2 separate regions of the Homo sapiens genome follow, and region 2 is linked to region 1. The links come from fine-mapping of genetic effects on gene expression. A gene starts in region 1. The other region holds a variant in brackets. All regions are shown on one strand. Distances are between the middles of the regions.

Evidence for each region.
Region 2: its variant is fine-mapped to the expression of TIAM2 in whole blood (INTERVAL, PIP above 0.99).

The regions. Positions count from the first base shown.
Region 1 is chr6:154,992,899-154,998,269 of GRCh38, forward strand. It overlaps TIAM2 (TIAM Rac1 associated GEF 2), which reads left to right and starts at 2,417. Exons shown (of 27, transcript NM_012454.4): 1 at 2,417-2,594. RefSeq lists enhancers at 2,311-2,918, 2,919-3,524 and silencers at 2,365-2,504, 2,595-2,674.
Region 2 is chr6:155,220,210-155,225,580 of GRCh38, forward strand. The region is part of intron 15 of TIAM2 (TIAM Rac1 associated GEF 2); the gene reads left to right. Among named protein-coding and RNA genes, the nearest start is that of CLDN20, 41 kb to the right of the region's middle. RefSeq lists enhancers at 236-735, 3,545-4,744. The variant T/C (reference allele first, on the strand shown) is at 3,054.

The sequences.
Region 1 (5,371 bases):
CTGCGCCTGGCCTGCTCTTCCCATTTTCTTTTGTCTTTCTTACTAACCTAGTCAATCCCCCACTACTCCAAGTCCCGTTATAGTTAATAATTCTTTGTATTAAACTTTCACTGTTGAAATCATTGTGTAGCCTCTCTCTTGGTTGGACCCATATGTACACACGTGGGTGGTATGGGAGCTCAGACTCTGGTTACTTGGCTGTCAAGGGATGGTGTCTCACAAGAGGAGAGGAATTAGAGCCATCTGGGTTCTATATATTTTTTCAAGTTTGTACAACAAACATGTTACTTTTATAATCAGAAAAATATTTTAAAATAGTGCGAAAAATGCAATAAAAGAAGCAAGAAAAATAAACACATACCAGCACCCCCCCACCCCCCGTCTCAGTGTGGTAGGTGTGAGTCAGAAGTAAGAAGTAAATAAGTGTTGGCCGGGCGCCATGGCTCACACCCTAATCCCAACACTTTGGGAGGCTGTGGGCAGATCACTAGAGGTCAGGGGTTCGAGACCAGCCTGGCCAACATGGTGAAACTCCGTGTCTACTAACAGTACAGAAATTATCTGGGTGTGGCGGTGCATGCCTGTAGTCCCAGCTACTTGGGAGGCTGAGGCAGGATCACTTGAACCCGGGAGGTGGAGGTTGAGCGAGCTGAGATCGTGCCGCTGCACTCCAGCCTGGGCGACAGAGACAGACTCCATCTCAAAACAAAGCAAGCACCGCCCCCCCCCACCCCACCCACAAAACAGTAAATAAATGTCAAGGAAGAAAAGGTCTTTGGAGGTGATGCTTGAATTGAGCATGGAAGAGTGAGTGGAGTGGGAAGATATTTTCCTAGGCAGAGCCAAGTGCGCAAAGATGCAGACAAGACCAGGGGAGGGCCTACAGAGTGGGAGGGGCCAGTCACTACTAGTTCGGTGTGTACAGAGCCTGTGGTGGTTGAGGGTGGAGAGCAGGTCTGTCCGATCCCCGCAAAGCCTGGAGGCTTCCTTTTGATACTGGGTGTGTTGTGGGAAAGCTGATTTCATTTGTCTTTTTGACTCACAGTTCTCCACGGATCTCCCGTTACGGAGACTGGGTCGTATTCACGCACTGCACCTAACTGACCAGGGCCCTGGCTGCTGTGCTCTGAACTCCAGCACTGGGATTGTGCCCAACGCCACCCTTCCCACCTGGCCGCTCCCAGCCAAGGACTGGTGGCGGCATGGACACGAAGGCAGGCAGGTTCCGGGGAGAATCGGGATCCCCATGATGCGTAATTTTGGCTGAAGGGCTCACGGATGATCTTGCTGAGCTTTTCTTAGACTGCAGGGAGGCCGGGATGGGTGCTTCCCTCCCTCCTTCACTTGGGCTCTGATTTGCAGAAGGTCCGGCCCTCTCCAGCTCTCACGGCTCCCTCCTCATTTAGTTCCACGGCCATTTCCCCCAAGAAAACCCTCCGCATCTAGTCCTGAGTGGGCGCTGCTTCTCGTAGGACCCACCCTAACACATGGCCTGCATCTACCTTCCCTTCCCTCTCCTCTCCAGGGTGCAGCCTTTTTCAAGGCGAGGAGAGTGATTCCAGGCAGCTTTCATTCCTGGGTCTCCTTAGCTCCCTCGCCCTTCCCAGCATCTGGGCCCACTGGGCCACTCAGGCTTTTCTAATAAAAATCGCAGCTTTGGCCCAGTGCGGTGGCTCACGCCTGTAAGCCCAGCACTTTGGGAGGCCGAGGCGGGTGGATCACCTGAGGTCGGGAGTTCGAGACCAGCCTGACTAACATGATGAAACCCCCATCTCTACTAAAAATACAAAATTAGCCGGGCGTGGTGGCGCGTGCCTGTAGTCCCAGCTACTCGGGAGGCTGAGGCAGGAGAATCGCTTCAACCCAGGAGGCGGAGGTTGCGGTGAGCCGAGATCACGCCATTGCACTCCAGCCTGGGCAACAAGAGCGAAACTCAGTCTGAAAAAATAATAATAAAAATCGCAGCTTCTCCACCTGGAAAGTCCCAATTCGACTGGGTCTTGGAGTGCCGACTCGATTGCCATCTCCGCTGCGAAGCCATCTCCTCTCAGAAGGGGAAGGAGATGGAAAGTCTCTGCGGCCGCTGACCTCAGTTTTGCGTGCCTTTCCTCGGTGGGACCCGGGAAGAGCCGTCTTTAAATTCCTTGGGGAAGGGACGGGGTCGCACTGGCGCATCGCATCCCCGGTAGCGGGCAGAGCCCCCAGCTCACAGTGAGCGCGTGCTCGATGTTTCTTGAATTGTTTTATTTGTGTTGTTCCAAAGAAAGCGCGAGGGACATGGTCCGGGACCAGCCGGGAGCTGGCGCGGGGGTCCTGGGCCTGACGCTGGGCGGGGCTGGGGCGTGTCCGGGGCGGGGCGGGGCGGGAGGTGCGGTCGCGGCTCGGGCCTGGCAGGCGCTGCGCGCGGGGCTGGGGCAGCGGTAACCGTAACTGTGGCCGCGGCCGCCGCAGGCGCACAGCGCGCGTCCAAGTGGAGAACAAAGTGACCCCCAGAACTTCTCCAACTCCTCCCGGCGTTCCCGCGAGGGCCACGCGCCGAGGGTAGCGGAGGGCGGCGCGCGACCGGCCCCACCGAGCCCGGCGCGCGACCCGAGGTAAGGGGCGCCCGGGTGAGGGCGCAGGAGGGCGACGACCCGCGCTGGTTGGCGGCGGCTCCAGGTCCCCTGCGGGCGGGGCGGCGCGCGGCCGGCGGTCCCCTCCCTTCCCCTTTGTTGGCCGCCCCTCTCTGCCCCCGCTTTCCTGGGAGTCCCGCGGAAGGTCGCGGCTGCGGGGCGCGGCCTGGCACCCTCTCCCCGGAGGGCGGCAGCGTCCGGGCACAGCCTGGCACGGGGGACGAAGCACTTTCCAGAAGGCTCTGAAACTAGGTCCCCTGGTCCCCTCGCGCTGCGCGACACGCCAGGACCCACTTTCAGCCCCGGTCCCATCCCGGATGGGAGGAGGCGGCGCCCCGGCCTCCTGATACCGAGGTTCTCGCCCAAAGCCGAGCCGTGGGTGCCCGGAGGGGAGCGCCCGCTGCGCCCACGCCCGCCCGGCGACCTCGGAGCCTCAGAAAGGCGCTGCGGCGAAGCAGGATCCCAGGCGGTCGGCTCAGCGAGTGTAGACCGTGCGGTCCCTGCTCAGCCCCTCCGGCCTTTCCGAGCGCGGGAGCCATCCCGGACGGGCGCGGCTCCTGGGGGGGCTGAGGTGCCAAGTTTCTGTGAAAGCCGACACGTTGTGCCCCTAATGGATCCTATTTACCAAAAACAGTTCAGAAAGAAAAGAGTCCATTCTTCCAGCCATTCGTTGCTGACAGCCGCTGGAAAGGTCTGGGAGTAACATTGCACGAGGTATTTCTATCTTTAAGGAGCGGCGAAATTTAATATTGATGAGCTTGCATGCCGTTTTTTTAAAATAGACAAATAGGTTAACTTTATTTAAAGAGGGAGAAGGCTGCTTGATTCCAAAGATAATTTCATTCAGGGGGAGGTTTTCCTGCTTTTCTCTGCAGAATTCAGGCAAGAGGCCACTTGGTGACACTCCTCAGCCTCCTTGGGTAATGGTGAGACCTTTATTTACTATGCGATGAAGGGCCTGGGATTCTCTTCTCATGGTTATTCACACATTCTACCTTTTGCTCCCCAAATGATGCTGACCACCTTATTTTAACAGACAACACCGGCTATCTCCAGTTCTCTTTCCAATAGATTTAAGCCAGAGTGTCTCTAAAATCTTACCAAGTTTCGTACAGGTGCGGATCATATGCTATAAATGTTTCAGTCCTAGGCTCTGGATAAAAAAGTGTCCATGGTTTTATAATTTGGGCTTAACCAGTAGAACTTGTGTGTATACACTCTTAGAAGTATTTCCTGATGTGCTTAAGATTGTTATGTTTTAAAAATATAGTATCATGATTGGTGCAGTTTTGTAAGCAAACTTTTGTTCCACCGGATTTTACCTGCTCACTTTATAGGAAAATAAAACTTGTTGCTTTAGGGTGTCAGAGGTTTTTGTGTTGGGTAAATGTAAAAGAACATGGCAAGGTATAACTGAAGAAGAGTTTATTATTTACTGTGGCAAAACACGCCCCTAATGACCTCAGAATCAGCTTTCAACACCTTCACATACCATACTAAGATGCTTCATAATGTGGCACCTGCCTGCCTTTCCAGTTCCATCTACTGACTTTCCCCAGGCCTCCTGGCTCTCCCCCGCTTGCACACTGCCTGCTCTAGACACACCAAGCTACTCAGAAGTTGTTATTTCCAGACCATTGTTTGGAATGAATGAAATTCTGCTTACACTGTTCTTACTCCTCTTGCCCATCTGTCAATTACCCACGCATTCTTAATGTGTCAGTCAAATACCTTCTCTAGGAAGCTTTTCTTCCTTATCCGTAGGCGAAGTTAAGCTCCTCCTCCTCCAGTAGTCAGTGCTTCTACTAGAACACATTTTTGTATATACCTCTGGCACTGCCACCTTGCACAGTTGTTCAGGCTGTTCACTACACAAGGTCATCTTGTCCAACAGGCAATTGGAGGCTGAAATCCGATTCACACTCCACTTGCCAAGCCTCTAGTGCGCTCCTCTCCATTGGAGAGGATACATTTGGCAATTTAACCAAAAGTACAGTATGGGTTAGTAGTGACCCTAAGCCTATCCCCACTACTGTACTTAGCATCCATCACTTCAACTGATGTAATAGGAGCTCAGTTAAGGTTCCTAGGTTCCGTGAACGAGTGAAGAAAGAATGGATTTTTTTTTTTTTTTTTTTTTTTTTTTTTGAGACAGGATCTCCCTTTGTTGACCAGGCTGGAGTGCAGTGATATGATCTCAGCTCACCGCAGCCTCAGCCTCCCCAGCTCAATTGATCTTCCTTCTCTGCCTTCCAAGTAGCTGGACTACAGACGCGTGCCACCACACCTGGCTAATTAAAAACATTTTGTAGAGAGGGGGTTTCGCCATGTTGCCCAGGCTGGTCTCAAACACCTGAGCTCAAGTGATCCACCCTCCTCAGCCTCCCAAAGTGCTGGGATTGTAGGCATGAGCCACCGTGTCCGGCCAGAAAAGATTACTTCTCACGAACTCTAGAAAGAAGTAAGAGTTTGGGGGCAGATTTTTTTTGTATAAGTCAGTATACAGAAATCTGCTTCAGTTTGCTTTATCTTATGTCTGGGCTGTTCAAATGATGCTTAGACAGATGTCTTCTCCTTGATTACAGGGAAGAATCTGCGAGTGTGAATTCATGGGTGGGCGTCAGGGATTTGTGTCAACATGTGGTGCTTTGTCAGCTGATGACTTTTCTAGCCACTCAGGTTTACGTGTCTAATCGTGATTTGCTAAGAGAGATAAGGGGGCAAGAAACTTGCAAGTAAGGCCCTAAAGAGCTTTGCTC
Region 2 (5,371 bases), 230 kb after region 1:
CCTCAGCTGGCTGTGCCTTTGCCAGGCAGGCTTTTAAAACTCAGACATGGGGTGTTGAGTTATTGAACGAGACTTTGGCTGGGGCTCAGAGTCTGCCTGCAGCTGTGGCAGAGGGCCTGTGTTTTCTCTATTAAACATGGAATACACGTATGTCTAGGAGCAGAGTATCATGCAAGGCAGGGGGACTTGAGCCTGGCGAGGCTGGTCTGGAGGCCTGGCGGGCTGCACAGTAAGAACCCCAGGAGCCCTGGGCCAGCCTGGCCCCACCAGTGCTTGTGTCTCCTGATCCTGATCTGGAAAGTAAGGATGATGGCACCTAGCACACAGTGAGGTTGGAAGGATGCAGGGAGGTCACCAATTGCCCTTCTTCCCCTTTCCTTTCTGTCTTTGGATCACTGAGGCACTTTCGTCAGCACAACTGGCTTCCCAGCCTCTTTTTTTTTGGCAGAGAAGAGTTTAATGAAAAAATAGGGATTTGCATTACAAACTAGGGACAAAAAGAAGACATCGTTTTAAACTTGAAGTTATAGAAAATAATCAAGCGTGTCTTACCTCTTTTTAAAATTATTATTATACTTTAAGTTCTGGGATACATGTGCAGAATGTGCAGGTTTGTTACATAGGTATACATGTGCCACGCTGGTTTGCTGCACCCATCAACCCATCATCTACCTTAGGTATTTCTCCTGACGCTATCCGTCTCCTAGCTCCCCACCTCCACTACAGGCCCCGGTGTGTGATGTTCCCCTCCCTGTGTCCATGGTTCTCATTGTTCAGCTTCCACTTACGAGACATGTGGTGTTTGGTTCTTTCCCCTGCTGTTTTCTGTGCCACAGTACTTTCCTACCTGCCTTCCTCTGTCCCTGCTTTCTTCTTTTCCAGACTTTTCTCTTTCATCTTGTTTTTTTTTTTTTTTGAAAAAAAAAAAAACAAAAAAAAACACAAGTTATTATTCAGAGTCATCTTCAGAATCACAAAATAAAGAAGTAAAAAAGAGAAGTTTTAGAGAGCAGCGCTGTGAGAGCTGCAGTGTGAATCACTGCGCTGGGGTGGGCTGGAGGATCAGGGCCTGTCAGGTGGAATGCTGGCTCTGAAATTAACTTGCTGAAGAGATAATGACACTCCCGTTCCTCATCCTGCTGGGACAGTGATGCACAGGAAAGTGACTTGGAGACTACTCAGAGCTGAGGCCACACAAAGATTTGACTGAGCAGAGATGCTGATCTTCACCTAATGCTTTATTTGCCACGTTTATTTCTGATACAGGCTTCTCCTTTTTCTCTCCATTGAAACAGCGGGTGCCATGGTTTTGCTCTCATCCTGTCTGAGATGACACTTGAAGTGGGATATGTTTGACCTTTTCAAGGCAAACAGAAAGCCAAGTTCAAGGAGTCATCAGCCAGCTCCCTGCAACTTAGGTGGTCGTAAGGGACCTCTTGCCAGAGCTGCTTGAGGTCTCCCCTTTAATTTTGTCCACCTGGATGACAGTGAAGATGGGGTTGAACGGCAAGTGTCCCATGTCTGTCCTCTTTCTTCCATCTTCCCTCTCCATGCCCCTCAGCCCTCTATTTCCAGATCTTTATTTCCTTTCTGGGCTTCTGAATTAGAGATGGAGCTATGGAGACCTTGATATAATTTTGCTTTCTGTGGGAGAAGAAAGCAGGAAGTTTGATTTCTCAGGCCAAACTAGCCTCAGTGTAAATACCATTTGCAGGTTCTTGCCTATTCTTCTTCTTATTTATTTATTTATTTTTGTTTTTTTGAGAGGGAGTCTCACTTTGTTGCCCAGGCTGGAGTGCAGTGGCGCGATCTTGGTTCACTGTAGCCTCTGCCTCCCGGGTTCAAGCAATTCTTATGCCTCAGCCTCCTCAGTACCTGGGACCACAGGTGCACGCCACCATGCCCAGCTAATTTTTGTATTTTTACTAGAGACGGGGTTTCACTATGTTAGCCAGGCTGGTCTCAAACTCCTGACCTCAGGTGATCCACACTCTTCAGCCTCCCAAAGTGTTGGGATTACAGGCGTGAGCCACCACACCCGGCCTGTTCTTGCCTATTCTTTGGGGAAGCCACCTCGACATGGGGTACACTCGGAGTAAGAACACATGGGTTGGGTGGGCGTGGCTCACGCCTGTAGTCCCAGCACTTTGGGAGGTTGAGGCTGGTGGATCACTTGAGGCCAGGAGCTCAAGACCAGCCTGGCCAACATGGTGTGACCCTATCTCTACTAAAAATACAAAAATTAGATAGGCATTGTGGCTCGTTCCTGTAATCCCAGCTACTCGGGAGGCTGAGGCATGAGAACTGCTTAAGCCCAGGAGGCAGAGGTTGCAGTGAGCCAAGACTGCACCACTGTACTCCAACCTGGATGACAGAGCAAGACTCTGTTTCAAAAACAAAAAACAAACAAAAAAAAAAAACACAAAAAAAACCATGGGTTTTTTGCCCTAAGTCTTACACTGAGGAGCCGTTTCTTCATCCTTGGGTAAGTTGTCAAACTTCCCTATCTGTGAAACTCAAGGGTCCGTCTGACCAGCTGTCCTGCCCTGATGTCTCTCCCTGTCTGTCTTTCTGCCTGAATGCCTGATCCAAAGCAGCTTTCTGCTAGATATCCCTTTTTATCCCCATGAATATGGAGAGCTGCTTAGAAGAAGAATCTTAGCAGAACCCTATTAGAATTTGCTTCGGTCGTTTATTGTCCTTCATGCATTTCATTGAAGCTAAAACCTGTAAGATTTTTGGAGGCTTCTCAGGTAATGGTATGCGAAGGTCAGGATGGTTAGATACCGTATTTCCAGATGCTCTCTGCTCTTTTATGCACTTACGTTATTTAGGAACTTATTTCAAGCAGACCATTTGAGAATCTGAGGAAAGCTATGGGTCCCCAGAAGATTGCTTATGCACATACGTTAGAAATTGCAGACAATTCCAGGGAGCTCCCCAGTCTTACGATGTTTATTCACAGCTTTCCCTGTTAGGAATTTATGAACCGTCAGTTTGTGATCCTTACTTTGAGTAAACATCTGAATAGCCTAGCCTGTGTCTTAATATTA[T/C]TGATATTGCAGAATCAGTTATCAAGTACCTGCAATATGAACAGCACTGTGTTTATATAGTCAAGTGATATTTTGAACTTTGTTTTTATCTTAGTCTAATTGCTTGGGTGAGATTAGCTATTAATGCTTTATTTTTTTAATGTGCTAAGAGATGTTGAGGAACGTTAAATAAATAACAACCCCTAGATGGCAAATAAATTATTAGGTTGAGACCAGAATAGATTATATTGATGATGGTGGTTAGACATCCCCAGATTTTTTTTTCTTTTTTTTTTTTTTTTTACTCTGCACTTCAATGGATGCAAACCCAGGTTGTTAAACACCAATCGCAGCATTACGTGCTGGGATGTTTTGGCATTTTGAAAGTTTTATTTTCTATCATTAGTGAACAAAATGGGTTTTTTTTTGGAGTAAGAATTTTAACATTTTGATCCCAAACCAAACTTTTATGGATCTCTTTAGTAAAATAAATAGCTGTCTGATGGACTAGGAGGGGTGTTTTTTATGCTCAGCGTAAGGGACGCTCAGGTGGCTGTGGCTCCTGTGTTCCCCGGCAAGGGCGTTGCCAGTGAATTTCACCCTTCCCCTTTCCATGTCAGCAAATTAGCTAAGCCCTTGTTGTCGTTCGCCCTTTTTCTTTTAAAGAAGTAATAGGCACAATTACTATCTAATTTTGGCTTGCCACTGTGTGGGTGCCTGGAATCTCATCCGATCTTTAATATTTACCCAGGGGGGTGGGTGTAGTGTCGCATTATTCATTCACTCATTAAATCCCCTTCACCGAGGCCTGCTCAGATGCTTGCCATTGTTCAAAGTTCTGAAATCGTCACCTGGCTGCCTTCTGTCAATATTCTTGCGTAGAGATTGTAGTCCAATGAAAACCTTGTACTGAGTGAAAGAAGATGTGTTTGAGTTTCAAGGCATTTTCTGTGCCTTTCATGACTCATAGCAGATTCTCACCTTGTGATAAAGTTCCGGCTCCACAGTGGTGGCTGCTTTTGCTTTTGCAAAAGTAAGTTGTGAGAAATTGTTCTGAGTCATTTTGCAATTTCCTCTATAGACTCAGCTAAGAGTAGATGTGTGTGTCATGAGTAGATGTGTCTGGAGTTGAGGGAGGAGGGGTCATGGAAAAACTCTGCCTGGAAGTGCTTCATCCAGGTACACATGATGGTATTTTCACCATCTCAAACACTAGCTTCTAACTGCTGAAGGTTAAGATGGGATCATTCGTTTTGTAAATCCGTCTCCTGCTGTCTTGATAATAACATGAAGAAAAGGGCAAGAAAAACATGGATGTGTCATTAGTATGGAAGGAAGGAGGAGAATGGAGGTTTGTTTTAAAGGCACCCCCAATTCTCTTTCCCTCTTTCATCCTTTCGTTGGTTCTTGCCCCTTCCACACCCCGACTGTGTTTGTTCAGCCTCCAGCGCATGCTGCCGCCTCTGCTATTCACCTGCCTTTGCGCTCTCTCATTCTTTGCTGCCACCTGAGTCCTCTGGTGTTTTCAGAAAACAGCTGGCAGAGGAGGAGGCTCTGAGATGTGCAGTTGCTTAGAAGGTTCTGGCCTGGCATCTGCACAGCGGGGATTTCATCACCAACTGCTCAGAAACCACAAATGCTGCATGCCTGGAGGAGTCCTGCCATCTTCCTACCTTGCATGCCACTCTCAGCTGGTTTTGGGATTTTCTATTTATTTGTTTGTTTGTTTGTTTGAGATGGGTCTCGCTCTGTCACCCAAGCTGGAGTGAAATGGTGCGATCTTGGCTGACTGCAACCTTTGCCTTCCAGGTTCAAGCAGTTCTCCCACCTCAGCCTCGCATGTAGCTGGGATTACAGGCATGCACAACTGCACACAGCTAATTTTTGTATTTTTGGTAGAGATGGGGTTTTGACATGTTGTCCAGGCTTGTCTCGAACTCCTGACTTCAGATGATCCACCCACCTCGGCCTCCCAAAGTGCTGGGATTACAGGCATGAGCCAATGCACTCAGCTGGGATTTTTAAGAGTTTATTCCCTTCTTGGTTCATTCAGGCATAGATAAAGGGCAGTCTGAGGGCCCGGGTGACACACCCATCAGGACAGGTTGGTGCTCTGCCTTCCTCTCATTTGAGCACCGAGGTCTTGAATTTGGGGCTTATACAGATGAGTTACCAAGATGGGGAAAGGTGGACCATCAAGCAGTAATACAACGTGAGGCTTACAGGTAACTTCTAAGTGTGGGGCTTTAAAGAAAGTCTCTGTTCACATTCTGTCACCCTCACTCTGTCTCTTCCATCTTTTTCTTGCCTGAGTGTCCTGGTTCTGCTGCCTTCTCTAG